2 linked regions of the Homo sapiens genome follow. The protein of the gene in region 1 interacts with the protein of each later gene in a biochemical or structural test. Each region holds a gene or a part of one and is shown on either strand. Other genes may lie near its edges.

Region 1 (7,768 bases):
ATACCAAGCTGGCATCGGGCCTCAGGGAGGTTACAGGATCTGCATAGTGCTAACAACTGTGCATCGGTAGAATGGGAATCTGAATCCGGACACTCCGCCTGTGAAGTCCACGTAGCTCCACCTCGCTGCACTAAGATAGAGTAGATCTCCTTTTATGGATGATCAAATAAGTGAGAGGGAACCCAGGAGCCAGTGGAGAGGAGAATTTTAAGGAGGGGACTGCTGATGATCTAAAGTTTGAGTCATCAGTTTGGATGTGAACTGAGAAAATACCGCTGGGATTTGAGTTTAGGACTTAGTTGGAGACCCTTAGAGAGTGGTTTAGGGTGCCCAGCCCTGGGATAGGCATAGGAGAGTATGGAAAGACAGAAAGACATAGTCCTATCCCTCATGAAGCTAAATGTGAGCCAAAGCCAGGGAAGTTGGCAAAAATCAAATGGTAATAAATGAGACGGTGATTTAGGAAAGAGAGATCCATGTAGAACCTGCAGGCCCCTCTGACACCTTTGTGAAAATTAGGATGGATCAGTTCACTTTCTTGGGGCCATTGCTGCCCTGAGCCAGAGCCCACAGCTTGGCAAGCAACCTCTGGGCTAGGTCTCAGCCCCCATTCATCAGAATGAAGACTGACTTGTTAGGAAAGTTTCATTCAGGAAACTGGGACTTGAGCTGGGCTTCCACTGATGTGAAGGGTTTGGAGCAGCTGTGTGAAAGAGGTAGGAGTTAGGTCTTCCCTGCTGGGAAATGTCAAAACAGAGGCAATTAAGAGTCATAAAGGAGAGAGAGAAGACAAAAATCACCTGACTCTTGGCTCCAGTATTTTTAAAGCATGAGAAATTAGATAAGATCACTCCTTTAAAACAGTTACTGAGCACCTAATATATTCAAGGAGCTATGCCGAATAGGCTGACTCAGGGAAATAAGGACCCTGACAGTTGCGCATTAGTTTGTAGTTTATGAAGCACATCCATTTCCAGCTATGACATTTTGTCCACTTTCTTGTAAAGGAGGCTGAAGTTGTGGCTGCCCCTGAACATGAAGCTACAAATCTCCACAATTAGGACCATAATCCAGATTCTTTGACTAGTCCAGAATTCCTTTCATTCTGACCATCCTCTTCTTAAACATTTTAAAATTTAGGTAATTGTTTAGATAGATGGCACATTTGCTGGCTCAAAATTTTAAAAACACAGGAAAAAGTCTCCCTCTTGCCCCTGGTTTCCACACATCTAGTTTCTCTCTCCAGAAGCAAATTTTACTAGTTCATTGATATATTCTTCCAGAGATGTTCTTTGCATAAAAAGCAAATAAGAATATTTATTCTTCCCCGATTTGTGCAAATAATAGCATATTATACACACTGTTCTGTACCTTGCTTTTAAATTTAATTTATTTTTATTTTTTAAAATCAGTAATCTATGTGTCCAAAGCATAAACCAGGCATGGGCATAGACCAGAAGCCAAGCTGGGATAAACAGGGGGTTGCTTTGTTCCTGTCTGATGTGAGATGGGCACCATTAAGCTTTTTTTTTTTTTTTTTTCGAGACAGAGTCTGGCTCTGTCATCCAGGCTGGAGTACAGTGGCGCAATCTCGGCTCACTGCAAGCTCCACCTCCCGGGTTCACGCCATTCTCCTACTTCAGCCTCCCGAGTAGCTGGGACTACAGGCACCCGCCACCATGCCCGGCTAATGAGACAGGGTTTCACCATGTTAGCCAGGATGGTCTCGATCTCCTGACCTCGTGATCCACCTGTCTCGGCCTCCCAAAGTGTTGGGATTACAGGCGTGAGCCACCATGCCTGGCCAAGCTTTTTTTTTTTTAATGTATCAATTTATGTTGGAGATTATTCCAATAGCAAAAGTTCCCTTCCACACCCCACCCCCTACTAATGGCTGCACAATGTTCTATTGTATGAATGTAGCTAGTTTATTTAGCTTAACTTCCGTTGATGAACATTTGTTTTTTTTCTAAAATTTGAAGCAAATGTTTCTAAAACATTGATGCAATAGGTATATGCATATATTATTTCACATATGCATGAATATATATGTAAAATTTCTAACATCAGAATTGCTGGCTCAAAGAGAATGTACATTTGTAATCTTGGAGGAAATTCTCAAATTCCTACTCCTCTAAAGGAGGAGTACTAATTGGCATTCCCATCAGCAGTGTATGGGAGTGCCAATTTCCTCACACACTTACCAACACTGTGTTACCAAATGTTTGGATTTCTGTCAATCTGATAGGAAAAATAGTATGTCAGTGTTATTTTAATTTGTATTTTCTTCATGAGATTGAGATTATCTTTTAATATGCTTTAGAGACATTTGGTATTTCTTTTTCTATGAAATGTCTGCTGAGATACCTCTGCCCAATTTTCTTCTTGGTAGTTGATAAATTCTTATTTGCAAGAGCTGTATATAAAAGGTAATTAGCCCTTTGATTTTGATGGCAGTTGTAAATATTTTTCTTCTTCCAATGGTATTTCGTCATTTGTCTCTTGACATTGCACTTACGGTTTTTTTTCCCCCATGCAGGTCTTTTTTAATGTGGCTGAATTTATCTTTCTTTCCTTTTATGGTTTCTACATTTGAAACATTCTCAAGCTACTGCTAGTTAAATACAGTGGATTTCTGCCTTCAAGTTGCTCAATAAACCAGTAGGAAAATCAAGAAAAGTACCTAAGTAACTAGTAGAAGTTACTATATAGTCAGTACTATAAGTTGGTACAAAGTGCTGTTTCTTCATCTGTCTATCCATACATCTAATTATCAATCTATCTTTCCATCTGTCCATTAATCCATCCATTTATCAAGCTTTTACTGAATCCTTTCTAAGAGCAAGAAAAGGTATATATAGAGAGATGACATTTTATGGTAATGAAGCCCATGGGCTGGGATAAGAGACACCCAGATCTGAATCCCAGCTCTATGTTTACACCACTGTGGCCTTGGGCAGGTTACTTAATCTGTCCACATTTTTGTTTCTTATACTATTTCATGAGATACGACAGGAACGTAGATTGTGGAGGGGTCAAGGATTGAAGGTTAAAAAACAGACATTGTCGGAAATGCCTTAGGAAGAGAACTATAAGTGAGTACAATGCCTACATTTATAATTTCAGGTGGTGAAATCTGAATCCTGACAAGGTCAAGAGAGTGGCCACTAGGGTGGGTGGCAAAAGCAAAGGTCATTGGATGTGAGCAGGACAAGAACTGAAAGGCCTTGGTGTTAAATGATCATGTACATAGTCTTTGAAATCACCAGGATCATGGTAATTTCACAGCCAGATGAAGGGCAAGTTCTGGGAGGATCCTGAGCACAGGAGCTTCTGTCCCCGGTGGAGTGTGGGATGTGCCACCCTCCCAGCATGTGGATGCACTCACCAACCTGGAATCTCTCCAAACCTCTTTGTTCAGGATCTTACAGAGGTTCCATTATTTAGGTATGATTGATCAAATCACTGGCTGTTGGTGATTAACTCAGTCCCTGGGCTCCTCTCCCCTCCCCAGAGGTCAGAGGTGAGACTGAAAGTTCCAACCAGCCAGGCGTGGTGGTTCACGCCTGTAATCCCAGCATTTTGGGAGGCCAAGGCAGGCAGGTAACCTGAGGTCAGGAGTTCGAGACCAGCCTGGCCAACATGGTGAAACCCCGTCTCTACTAAAAATACAAAATATTAGCTGGGCATGGTGGTGTGCACCTGTAATCCCAGCTACTCGGGAGGCTGAGGCAGGAGATTCGCTGGAACCTGGGAGGCAGAGGTTGCAGTGAGCTGAGATAGTGCCGTTGCTCTCCAGCTTGGGCAACAAGAGTGAAACTCTGTCTCAAAAAAAAAAAAAAAAAAAGAAAGAAAGAAAGAAAGATCCCACCCTCTAATCACATGGTTCTTCTGCCAACCAGCCCCCATTCTTCCTCCAAGAGTCACCTCATTAGCATAAACCCTGGTATGGTTGAAAAGGGCTTATTATGAATAATAAAAGATACACTCATCAGAACATAACCATGTGGTAAGTTGAGGTGCATCAGGAATTAAGATGATTCAACTTAAAATTTTTGACTTTATGATGGGTTTACTGGGGTATTGAGTACACTTTCACCTTACAATATTTCTGACTTCAGTGAATTCACTGGGACGTAACCCCATCATAAGTTAAGGATCATCTGTTCAAGGGTTTTAGGAGCTCTGTGCCAAGACTAATTATATATATATCTCACAAGATCACACAACCCACAGCAAACAGTGGCAAAGTGGGATTGAGGGAGGAGGCTCTGAAATGAGGTTTTCAACAAGCGTCTTGGACCCTTAGAAGTTTCAAGTGACAGCCCTTATTAGTGGCACCCCTTAGGGGCTCCCTCAAACTCAATGCCAAGACTAGCCTGACTGGAGGGAACTTAGACAATGGAGTGGGCATTTGATGTTCCAGCATCTTGAGTGGGTGCCATTATTCTGTGACACCTGGATCCTGGGGTTCCATAAGCTGGGGTTCTAGGATGTCCATTCTTAGTTGAGTCTCATTTCCTGTCATATCGACGTCAAAGGCCCAAGACCTTCCTCCTCCCCTTGAGCAAACAAGCCACGCCCTGCACCAAAGTCCATCTCACCTTCCAGCTACCCTAGGTAATTTTCCTGGTAATTCAGTGTTTCTAGGAAAGCATGAGTCTTTCCACCCCCCGCCCTGAGATTTACTGACATATGAACACATATGATTGGCATGATATAAGAACCACTCATCTGCTGGCCATCTCTCCAGGTCTGGAGCCAGAGAAGATGATCTGAAATTGTAGCAGGAGAAATTGAGGTAGGATACTAAGAAAGCTTTTCAGGAGTGGGGCTAGGCAAGAGGTGCAGCATGAGGGAATAAGAGTGAATCCTCAGTATCTAAGGGAGGTGGCAGGTGGCGGGGGACTTCTTTCTTTGGGTCATCTTTGGTGGTGATTTGACAGGAAGGAACAAAGTGGCTTCAAACATTATACAAGTCTCTAGTCTGTTCTGTGTCCTGTTTTCTTTCTCATTCTTTCAGTGTGGAATCTATATGACCCTGGGAGGGATGTTGGTTGGAAGAATGACCAGCTGATGGAGATGCTGCTGTAATTATTGGTGGTAATAATGGGCAGCAGTGAGCCACCCGGTGTGACAGTGTAGGAGAAAACAGTCCAAACTCCTGCCAAACTCTCTCTACTGATGGCAAATCAGAGGAGACTCAAATTGTAAGTTTATAGTGGTCTGGCTTTTGGCCATGACAATGACACCTTGCCCTTTTAATTTGGGGCCCGTGCAAATATTCACTGAAAGCTGTCAAGAGGAAAACAGAATTGGTTATTGAATCACTTGCTTCCTCTAGGTGTATGAAAAATAATTTCAAGTTTAACAAACACAAGGAAACCGCAGGGTCCATGTCAAAGCTGATGAGCTATTTCTGAAACTCGTGCAGAATTGTGGTTTGTGTGGTCTATGTCACGGCACCCTTGAGGGAGAGTGGGCAATTGCCTGAACTTGGAGGCTGTGTCCTGTCCCCAGGCTGCTCCAGGGCTGCCTCCTTCCGACTGGGCCTTCTTATCTGGGACTGTTGAGGGCAACAGGCCTTCCGAAGACCAGTGAAGAAGGAGGCCCTGCAAACAGGAGGCTGACAGGGTAGGAACGAGGCCATGATCCCTTTGCAGAAGGACAACCAGGAGGAGGGTGTCTGCCCCATCTGCCAGGAGAGCCTGAAGGAGGCCGTGAGCACCAACTGCGGACATCTCTTCTGTCGAGTGTGCCTGACACAGCATGTGGAGAAGGCCTCAGCCTCTGGGGTCTTCTGCTGCCCCCTCTGCCGGAAGCCCTGTTCTGAGGAGGTGCTAGGGACAGGCTATATCTGCCCCAACCACCAGAAGAGGGTGTGCAGGTTCTGTGAGGAGAGCAGACTTCTTCTATGTGTGGAATGCCTGGTGTCCCCTGAACACATGTCTCATCATGAACTGACCATTGAAAATGCCCTCAGCCACTACAAGGTAAGCCTGGGTCACCGCAGCCAGGCCCTGCCTCCACCTCGCTGAGGTGCTGCATCCTACATGTTCATCATGCCTGGCACCTCAGAGTAGCTCAACAATGGACATCTCTCTTTGTTTCTTCTGCTTCATCCTGTTTTGGACCCTTGTCTTGCTTTTCTGTGTATATTTTGAGGCTGATGTTTCCATGCATTAATGTGAGTCTGTCTAAAAGAGGATATTGTCAGTGTGATGTTAGAGTCCCAGTCTGCTCATCTGTAGAATAGAGTAATTGGACTAACTAATGCAAAACCCTTTCAGGACTAAAACTGTGTGAACTCCTGGTTGATAGTACTAGAAACTTGGCTAGAAATGTAATCAGGTTTTATATACACTAGTAATTATCCTGCAAATATATTAAAACCTGAAAGTTACTACATAATTTTTTCTCTCTTTTTCTTCCTTCTGCATTTGTCTTATCTTTCCTTTTCCTTTCTTTGCTATGGCAATTATTTTATCTTATTCTGTTAAATTTTCTATCACAAAAGTTACATGCTGTAGGTAATAAATTCAGAAAGCACTGAAAGGTATAAAGTCAAGACTAAAAATTTGTCTTCCTTTCTCCCTCCATTCATAGTCCTCAGAGGTAACCATTGTTTGATTTTTGTACATCCTTCCAAAAAATGTGTGTGCTTATGAATGCACTCTTACACACACACACACACACACACACCCTCAAAGGATTCTCTCTATATTTTTTTCTGTAACTCATTTTTGTTATCTAAAAGTGTGGCTTGAACATTTTCTCATCAGCATGTATAGATCTTCTGAATTATTTTCAAGAACTGTGTGGTATTAAATTCTATGAATGTACCATAAATTGGCAGACATTGGGTCATTTCCAAGCTATTGTTTTGTTTTAAGATTACACAGAACGTTCTAATGAATATCCTTCAACATATATATTGGAGGACCTAGAATATCCAAGATATATTTTGGTGAGAGCATAAGGTAGAAATCTAACTTTAGTTTTTCCAAGTTATAATCAATTTGTCCTATCACCATTTGTTGAATGATTCATATAGTTTCCCCATTGATTTGAATGCCAATGTCATAATATACCATATATGCATATTTTCTTGCATACTGCCTTGATTCTTTGTGCTGTTCTATTCTGTCTATGCTTGCCTATAAGCCAAGGTATTTTAGAGATTTTATCCTTACCATATATTTTAATGTCAGGTATTTTGATAGAATCCTCACAATACTCTTATTTTTCAGAATTCGTGCAGATATTTGTATATCTTTATTTTGCCAATTAGCTTTGGAATTATTTTTATCAACCTTTCCCCTGACCCTAATCCAGTTAGTATTTGACTGGACAATTGACAATATTTTCACATGGCATCCTTCTATCCAATAGTGAAGGCTGAACTTCCAAAGCTGAGGTAGCTTTGAGATACTTGACTTTTGGAGAACATGTTATGATACAGAATGAGAAAGTGGGGAGTCCAGATTAAAAGTGACTACAGAAAGGTAGAGAAATAATTGAAAAAGCCAGAGGCAAAGTTCTATTTGGTTCTAACATCATTCCCTCCAGGTGCAATGTCCACAGGAGAGTGGGGAGGGATTCCTCACCTGCCGATGAAGCAGCATAAGATGGAGAAATTTATTTCCTCACTAAATGATTTTTTCAGGTCTGTCCTTTGTGTTAGATGTCATGCTAGGCATTGTAGAAAGTACAAAGATGATTCATAATTCTTGTTTCAAATCTGTCTTTAAATAATGACAAGAAAGCT
Region 2 (7,030 bases), on another chromosome or scaffold:
TTGGGATACTCAACTGGTAAGTATACATAATGCAAATATTCTCACAAACCACCCAAAATCCAAAATCTGAAGCACTTCTGGTTCCAAGCAAACAATTAAAAAAAACAGAAAAAGACTTTTAAAAATGGTTAATTTAAAAAAATTGATTTTTGCCTTTCAATCTGAAGAATCAGAGATAAACTTACTAGATGAAAGCTTATCAATTCAGTTAAAATTTCAATCCTCCATAACATTTTGATCACTTTCATTAAGCCTCTATAGCCTGAACTTTTGGAAACTTTCCCTATAATCAATTGCAGCCTTACTGTTGCACTAGTCCAGGTACTGGCAAACATCAGGGCTGCAGCCTGTTTCTGTACAGATGTCAAGCTAAGAATGGTTTTTATACTTTAAAAGGTTATAAAAAGTAAAAAATAAAAAAGACTATGCAACAGAGATCATATATGGAGGACATTCAATTAATGAATAACAATCAAGACTCTGCCAGAAGCCCACCATCCCAAACTAAATTTATACTTGAGAGACCTGAAAGTTCTTAAAGACCAGAAAAGACTAATATAAGCATTGTGATTTTTTTAAAAACCCACAATGCACTTTTATATGTATGTTGAAACTCACATAAGTTGTGTGCATTATTTTAGTGTATGTGAGCTTTTATTCACGTTTAAGTTCCAAATTAAACTCTGAAAAAGAATAAACTAACAATAAATCATGCTATAAATTTTCCTTAACTTTTACTGATATCTAAAAAATAGATTCAGTTAAAAACCACTGTTGATAGTACATGGATGATCTCTGCCTCTGAAGCAAGGAGCTTAAAGCTCAGTCAAACACAGATCACAAACTTATAAGAATTTTAGAATTGGAAGGATTTATAGAGGTAACCTATTCTTATCTCCTTGGTTTACAGATAAAGAAGGGAGATGAAGAGACTTTCAAACAGCTAATAAGCTGTATAAAAAGGCCTAGGAAAACAATTTAAGGAAGTCTGTGACTTTCCTATTACATATAAAGTGGTTACTTTCTTAGTTATAATCAGATCTATTTTAAGCCTGGTCCCTGAGAAATATGATTGCACAACACTCCTCAGCTAAGAACCAACAGGAGATTGTATTTTCTGTTTCCTTAGTCACAAAAACTGACCCTGACCTCTCTCCACTGAATTATAGCTAATCATCAAGCCCCAAGGGACCTGAAACTATGTTCCCATCTCTAACTAAGGTTAAAAAGAACTCCTCCCTCCAATTTTTTCCTGAGACATCTGGCAACTTCTATGCATATTTGTTTTGATTAGGTAGTATGGATGCTGCTGCTAACAGGAATAGAAAATAGAAAAATATGTGAGTAGGTAAAGCCAGGAATCTTTTTGAAAACAAACTGAATTTTATTACTATTTAAAAACTGTTCATTTATTCACTTAGTTATACTCAATCTTCTGCCTCTTAGATTCACAAAGACTGTCAATATCTCCAGTTCAAACATTCCCAAGTATCTAACTTTTAATGTGTAATGGGATTTTATTTCTGCAACTGACTTTCTATTACTACCAACGATGCATGAGGAATTCCTAGGTTTTAATAGTGATAATCCTCTTTGCCTGGATTAGTCTCACTTTGAGTAAAACCTTTATGAATTAGGCAAGTTTTTAAATGAAGTTTTTGGTTAATTTGTCTGTAAAACTGAAAAATATCCACATTACATACCCTGCAGGAGTACCTGTGAGGGTGAAGAAATTACAATGTGATACAAATGTGGGCATTATTCTAAAAGAGAAAGAATGCTGGCCTGGTGTGGTGTCTCACACCCATAATGCCAGCACTTTGGGAGGTCGAGGTGGGCGGATCGCTTGAGCTCAGGAGTTTGAGACCAGCCTGGGCAAAATGGTGAAACCCCGTCTCTACAAAAAATGCAAAAATTAGCTGGGCATGGTGGCATGCACCTGTAGTCCCAGCTACTCAGGAGGTTGAGGTGGGAGAATTGCTTGACCTCAGGAGTTCAAGGCTGCAGTGAGCTGTGATCATGCCGCTGCACTCCAGCCTGTGCAACAGAGCAAGTTCCTATCTCAAAAAAACGTAAACAATAAAAAAGAATGCAACCATTTCTGGTTTCACCAAAGTCATTTTCTTTATGAGGGTAATATGATCATAAATATATTAACTTAGACTTAAAAATGGTCAAGATGGTAAATTTTATGTTATATATTTTTAACAATTAAAAATAAAAATTATAAAATATTCCTTCCATTGATAGATGAGTGGATGAACAAAATGTGGTATACACATACCATGGAATATTACTGAGCCCTAAAAAGGAAGGAAAATCTGACACACACAACATGGATAAACCTTGAAGACATTGTGCTAAGTGAAAAAAGCCAGACGCAAAAGGACAAACACTGTATGATTCCACTTATATGATGATGGTTGCATACATTGTGAACTGCATTTAATCCCACTGAACTGTATATATAAAAATGGTTAAAATGTTATAATAAATTTCATGTTACGTATATTTTACCACAATAAGAAAAAATATTACCTTGAAGGTCTCCAATCATCTCAGAATCATGACCTCTGTCTCTTCGTTCAGCTTCTAATATAGCTTGCAGCTGGTAATAATCTTTGTCTGTTTGTGACTTAGAATTCTCTAAAATTCGATTTCTCTCTTGCAACTCTCTGTTCAGGGACTCTAACTGACTAATTGACTTGCTCATCTCTGTGTGACTCTTCCTCAATCTTACAGCTGTGTCCGATTCTGTCCTAAGTAAGTCATTGGCTTCTTCTAGCTATTTAAAAAGAAAGCAAAAAAATAGGTTTCTGACCAAAGTACGATATAATTTAATTATCTACAATTTTTTTAAAAAGGAACCTCATTTGAAACACTTACCTGCTTTTGTAACTGGGACAGCTTCTCATTAGCAAGCTGTGAATTCTGACTGACTTTCTTTAAGTCTTCCAACTGATCCTTTAATGTAGAAACTAGAAAATGAAAGAATAATATATAGAAATTACAACATTTTCATAGGGGAAACATATAAATCCTTTTTTAAAAAAAGACATTTAGTCTTAGGCCATAATAGTCAGCTACATTAGGTCCACTCCCAAAGCCAAATTCCAATTTGGAAGTACCTGCATTTTAAATTCATTAAAAAGTAGAACATTATCTTCTAATACAGAGTGCAAAAAGATTTCTTCTTACTGTTGTAAATCTCAAACTCCTTTATTCCCTTTATAAGATCACTGATAGTATACTTATAAAGCTAGTTTTAATATTATTTATTTTTCAAGAGTTCAATTGCTTGATAATTCAATATCTTAATAAAAATACAAAATTTAAAAGGTACCAAATGGTAGATAGTATAGAATAAGTCCTCCTTTCTCCATTTAGTCATTTTTGCCCCTTCTGAGTCTCCCTTAACTGGCTCTCCTCCCTAATATATATTTAATTTAAGCATATATAGACAAGTACTCTTGTTTTAAACACAAGCAATCCGTTTCTGTCACTTAAAGATCTGTCTTAGAGACTGTTTTATAACCGTATTTAAGGAGATGATTTATTATTTTTTATAAGCCACATAGTATTCTACCATATAGATGTACTAAAATTTATTACAGCATTCATTACCTTTATGTTTCATATATGTATTACATTATGTTTCATATACAGCATTGACTGCATTTTTTTTGTCATTTTAAACAATGCTACAATGAATAGCCTTGTGTATATATCAGTTTGCAGTAGGAGTATGTACGTGAAATAACTTATGGAAGTGAAATTACTGCATCAATGGGAGTAGAAAGGTATTTTAAATATATTTGTAACACAAGCATTAAAACACAAGAAATTCTGGTTTAGAAGTTCTTAGACGCAGCTGCTTGTTAGAAGTACCTAGGGGGCTTGTAAAGAATAATGATACTCAGGCCACATATCTAGACCAATTAAATTAGAATCGCTGGGATTTAGGCATCAGTACTCTTTAAAGCTTCCCAGGAGATTCCAGTATGCACACCATGATGACAATCACTACTCTAGTTAAATGCTACTTACTATTTACTTTAATATGTAATTTAATATTTAATTTAATTACTATTTAATATGTTATAAATTTAACCTGAGACCTGGGTTATTTAGCTTATAAAGTGTCTTAGGATTGTAGCTTCATGTATGTATCATGGACACTAAATTAAAGACAACCTCATGACAGTGTTAGAAATTCTATCATTTTTCAAAAGTAGTGACAATTTACCTTCATTTTCTACATTTCTTCTCTTCTCATTTTCCTGTTCAGCTTTTCTTTGGTACTCATTAATTCTATGCTGTAGCAACATTTTCTCCTTCTCAATCTGAGACACTGTAGATTCTAGATTTCTTCTTTGATTTCCCTGGAATTATAATGATAAAAGTTACCACTGTGATTAATACTCTGGTCATTCATTCAAGTGAGTATTTTGTTCTTAAAAACAAAAAACAAGAAAAAAAAAAAGACAAACACTTAAGATGAATGTTCTGTTTCAAACGCAAATAGTATCTCCTAATACAACTTTCTAAGTAGCTTGCCTTTTAAGAAGACAGTGGGAATCTGTCTTCTGTAGCTGGGACTACAGGGACGCACCACTGCGTCCAGCTAATTTTTCTATTTTTGGTAGAGACGGCTTTTGCCATGTTGGCCAGGCTGGTTTTGAACTCTTGACCTCAGGTGATCCGCCTGCCTCAGCCTCCCAAAGTACTGGGATAACAGGCATGAGCTACTGTGCCCAGCCTAAAATACCCAAATTTTCACAACTTAAAAATGTACCTTTCTGAGTTACCACTATCAGTAAATCTTGTTTTTGATGCTTCACTTTTTAAGACTCCACATTAGGAAACCTGTTTTACAGTGTTTCTGGGCTTTCTCATCTTTAAGCAGAAATTGGACATAAATCATTCAAGGTCTTTCTGATTCTAAGAGTTTATCATTCTAACTTTTAGTTAATTTTTAGATAATTATACATTCAAAGAAAGTTGCAAAGATAGTACAGAGAGGTCCCAAGTGCCCTTCCACTCAGCTTCCCCCAGTAGAGACATTATATATAACAATAGTACAATAACAAAATCAGAAAATTCTCACTGGTATAAGGAGTGTATGATTCTCTCATTTTATCACATATGTAGGTTCATGTAAGCACCACCACAACGAAGATACAGAACTGGTCATCACAACAATTTCTTTCCAGTCACTAGTTATAGCCACACCCATCCCCGTCCTCCCACCACCCATACTCCTGGCAACTAATGGTTCTCCATTTCTATAATTTTGTCTTTTTGAGAATGTTATATAAATGGAACCATGCAATATATGACTTTTTGAGACAGGCTTTTTTTTTTTTTTTTTTTTGTATTTTTAATAGAGATGGGGTTTCACCATGTTGGCCAGGATGGTCTCGATTTCCTGACCTCGTGATCCGCCCGCCTCAGCCTCCCAAAGTGCTGGGATTACAGGCGTGAGTCACCGCGCCTGGCCAAGACAGGTTTTTTTTTTTTTTAACTCAACATAAAGACCTTAAAATCCATCTCTGTATTGTATGTATCTACAGTTTATTCCTTCTTGTGGCTGAGTATTCCATGGTACAAATGTACCGAAGTTTGTTCAACCATTCACCTACTGTAGGACATTTTGATTGTTTTCAGTTTTTGGCTATTACAAATAGAGCTGTTATAAACATTAGTATACAGGTTTTTGTGAGAATATACATTTTCATTTTTCTGGAATACATGCCCAAGAATACAATTGCTAGGTCACATAGTAGGCACATGTTTAGTTTTTCAGGAACACAGCCAATTGGTTTTCCAGAATGTCTGTACCATTTTATATCCCCATCTGCAATGTCCAAGTGATCTAGTTTCTCCATATCCTTGCCAGTTTGCTATTGACATAATTTTAAAACTTACTTTTTTTCATGGTTATGGAGTAATATTTCATGATAGTTTTAATTTGCACTTCCCAAATGACTAATTATGTGAACCTCTTTTCATAGGTTTATTTTCATCCATATATCTAAAAAGTTTAAAAAGTATGGATTCGCTTTCCTTAACACTTATATAGGGCTACTGAAATTACCTATTTCACACTGTATGAGTTGTGATAGTTTGATTTTTGAGAAGTTAGTCCCTTTCATCTACATGTCTTAATTGTGTTTAGAACTGTTCATAGGATTTCCTTATGATTCTTTTGATACCTATATGGTCTATAGTATATGCCCTATTTCATTCCTCATACTGGTAATTTGTGTCCTCTCTTTTTCCTTTATCAGTCTTGCTAGAGGTTTGTTAATTTTGTTGATCTTTTCACACAGCTTTTTGTTTCACTGATTTTCTCTATTGTTTTTCTGCTTTTAACTGCCTTGTTCTCTGCTCTTATCGTTACTTGTCCTTCCTTTTGCTTGTTTTGGGTTTATTTCACTCTTCTTATTCTAGTTTCCAGAAGTAGGAGTTTAAATTATTGATTTTAGACTTTTCCTCTTTTCTAAGGTAAGCATTTAGTGCTATAAATTAACCTTCATCACCATGTTAACAGCATCTCACAAATTTTGATGATGTATTTTCACTTCATTGTTCAAATATTTTGTAAAGATAAAGAGCCATAACAGTTTTATGAGACATAATTAACATTCCAATGTATTTTTTTCACTGAGACTTCTTCTTTGACCTCTGGGTTATTTAGAAGTTTATTGTTTGCTTTCCATGTGTTTGCAGATTTTTCTGTTATTCTCATCTGTACATTTTGGTCAGGAAACTGTATGATTTCAGTGCTTTCAAATGTGTTTGTTTTATAGCTTGGGATGTGGTCTACCTTGGTGTGTGTTCCTTAAGCACTTGAAAAGAAGGCATATTGTGCTGTTAAGCAGAGGGTTCTGTAAATGTTGAACAAATTCTGACAGCTGACAGTGTAGTTGAGTTCTCCTATGTTTGGTGATTCTTACGGGTGCTGAAGTCTCCAACAATAATTATGGATTGGTCTATTTAACCTTCCAGTCTTATCAACTTTTGCTTC

What was found.
Region 2: the proteins of TRIM40 (region 1) and ROCK1 form a complex in vitro, tested with the Homo sapiens proteins (one study listed by BioGRID).

The regions. Positions count from the first base shown.
Region 1 is NC_000006.12:30,131,389-30,139,156, forward strand, and holds the start of TRIM40 (E3 ubiquitin ligase TRIM40), read left to right. Parts: upstream 1-4,751; 5' UTR 4,752-4,801; intron 4,802-5,023; exon of another isoform or gene 5,024-5,344; 5' UTR 5,345-5,648; coding exon 5,649-5,993; intron 5,994-7,768. UniProt on the Homo sapiens protein: E3 ubiquitin-protein ligase that plays a role in the limitation of the innate immune response. Mediates inhibition of the RLR signaling pathway by ubiquitinating RIGI and IFIH1 receptors, leading to their proteasomal degradation.
Region 2 is NC_000018.10:21,003,813-21,010,842, forward strand, and holds part of ROCK1 (rho-associated protein kinase 1), read right to left. Parts: intron 4,383-7,030; coding exon 4,247-4,382; intron 2,979-4,246; coding exon 2,887-2,978; intron 2,786-2,886; coding exon 2,539-2,785; intron 1-2,538. UniProt on the Homo sapiens protein: Protein kinase which is a key regulator of the actin cytoskeleton and cell polarity.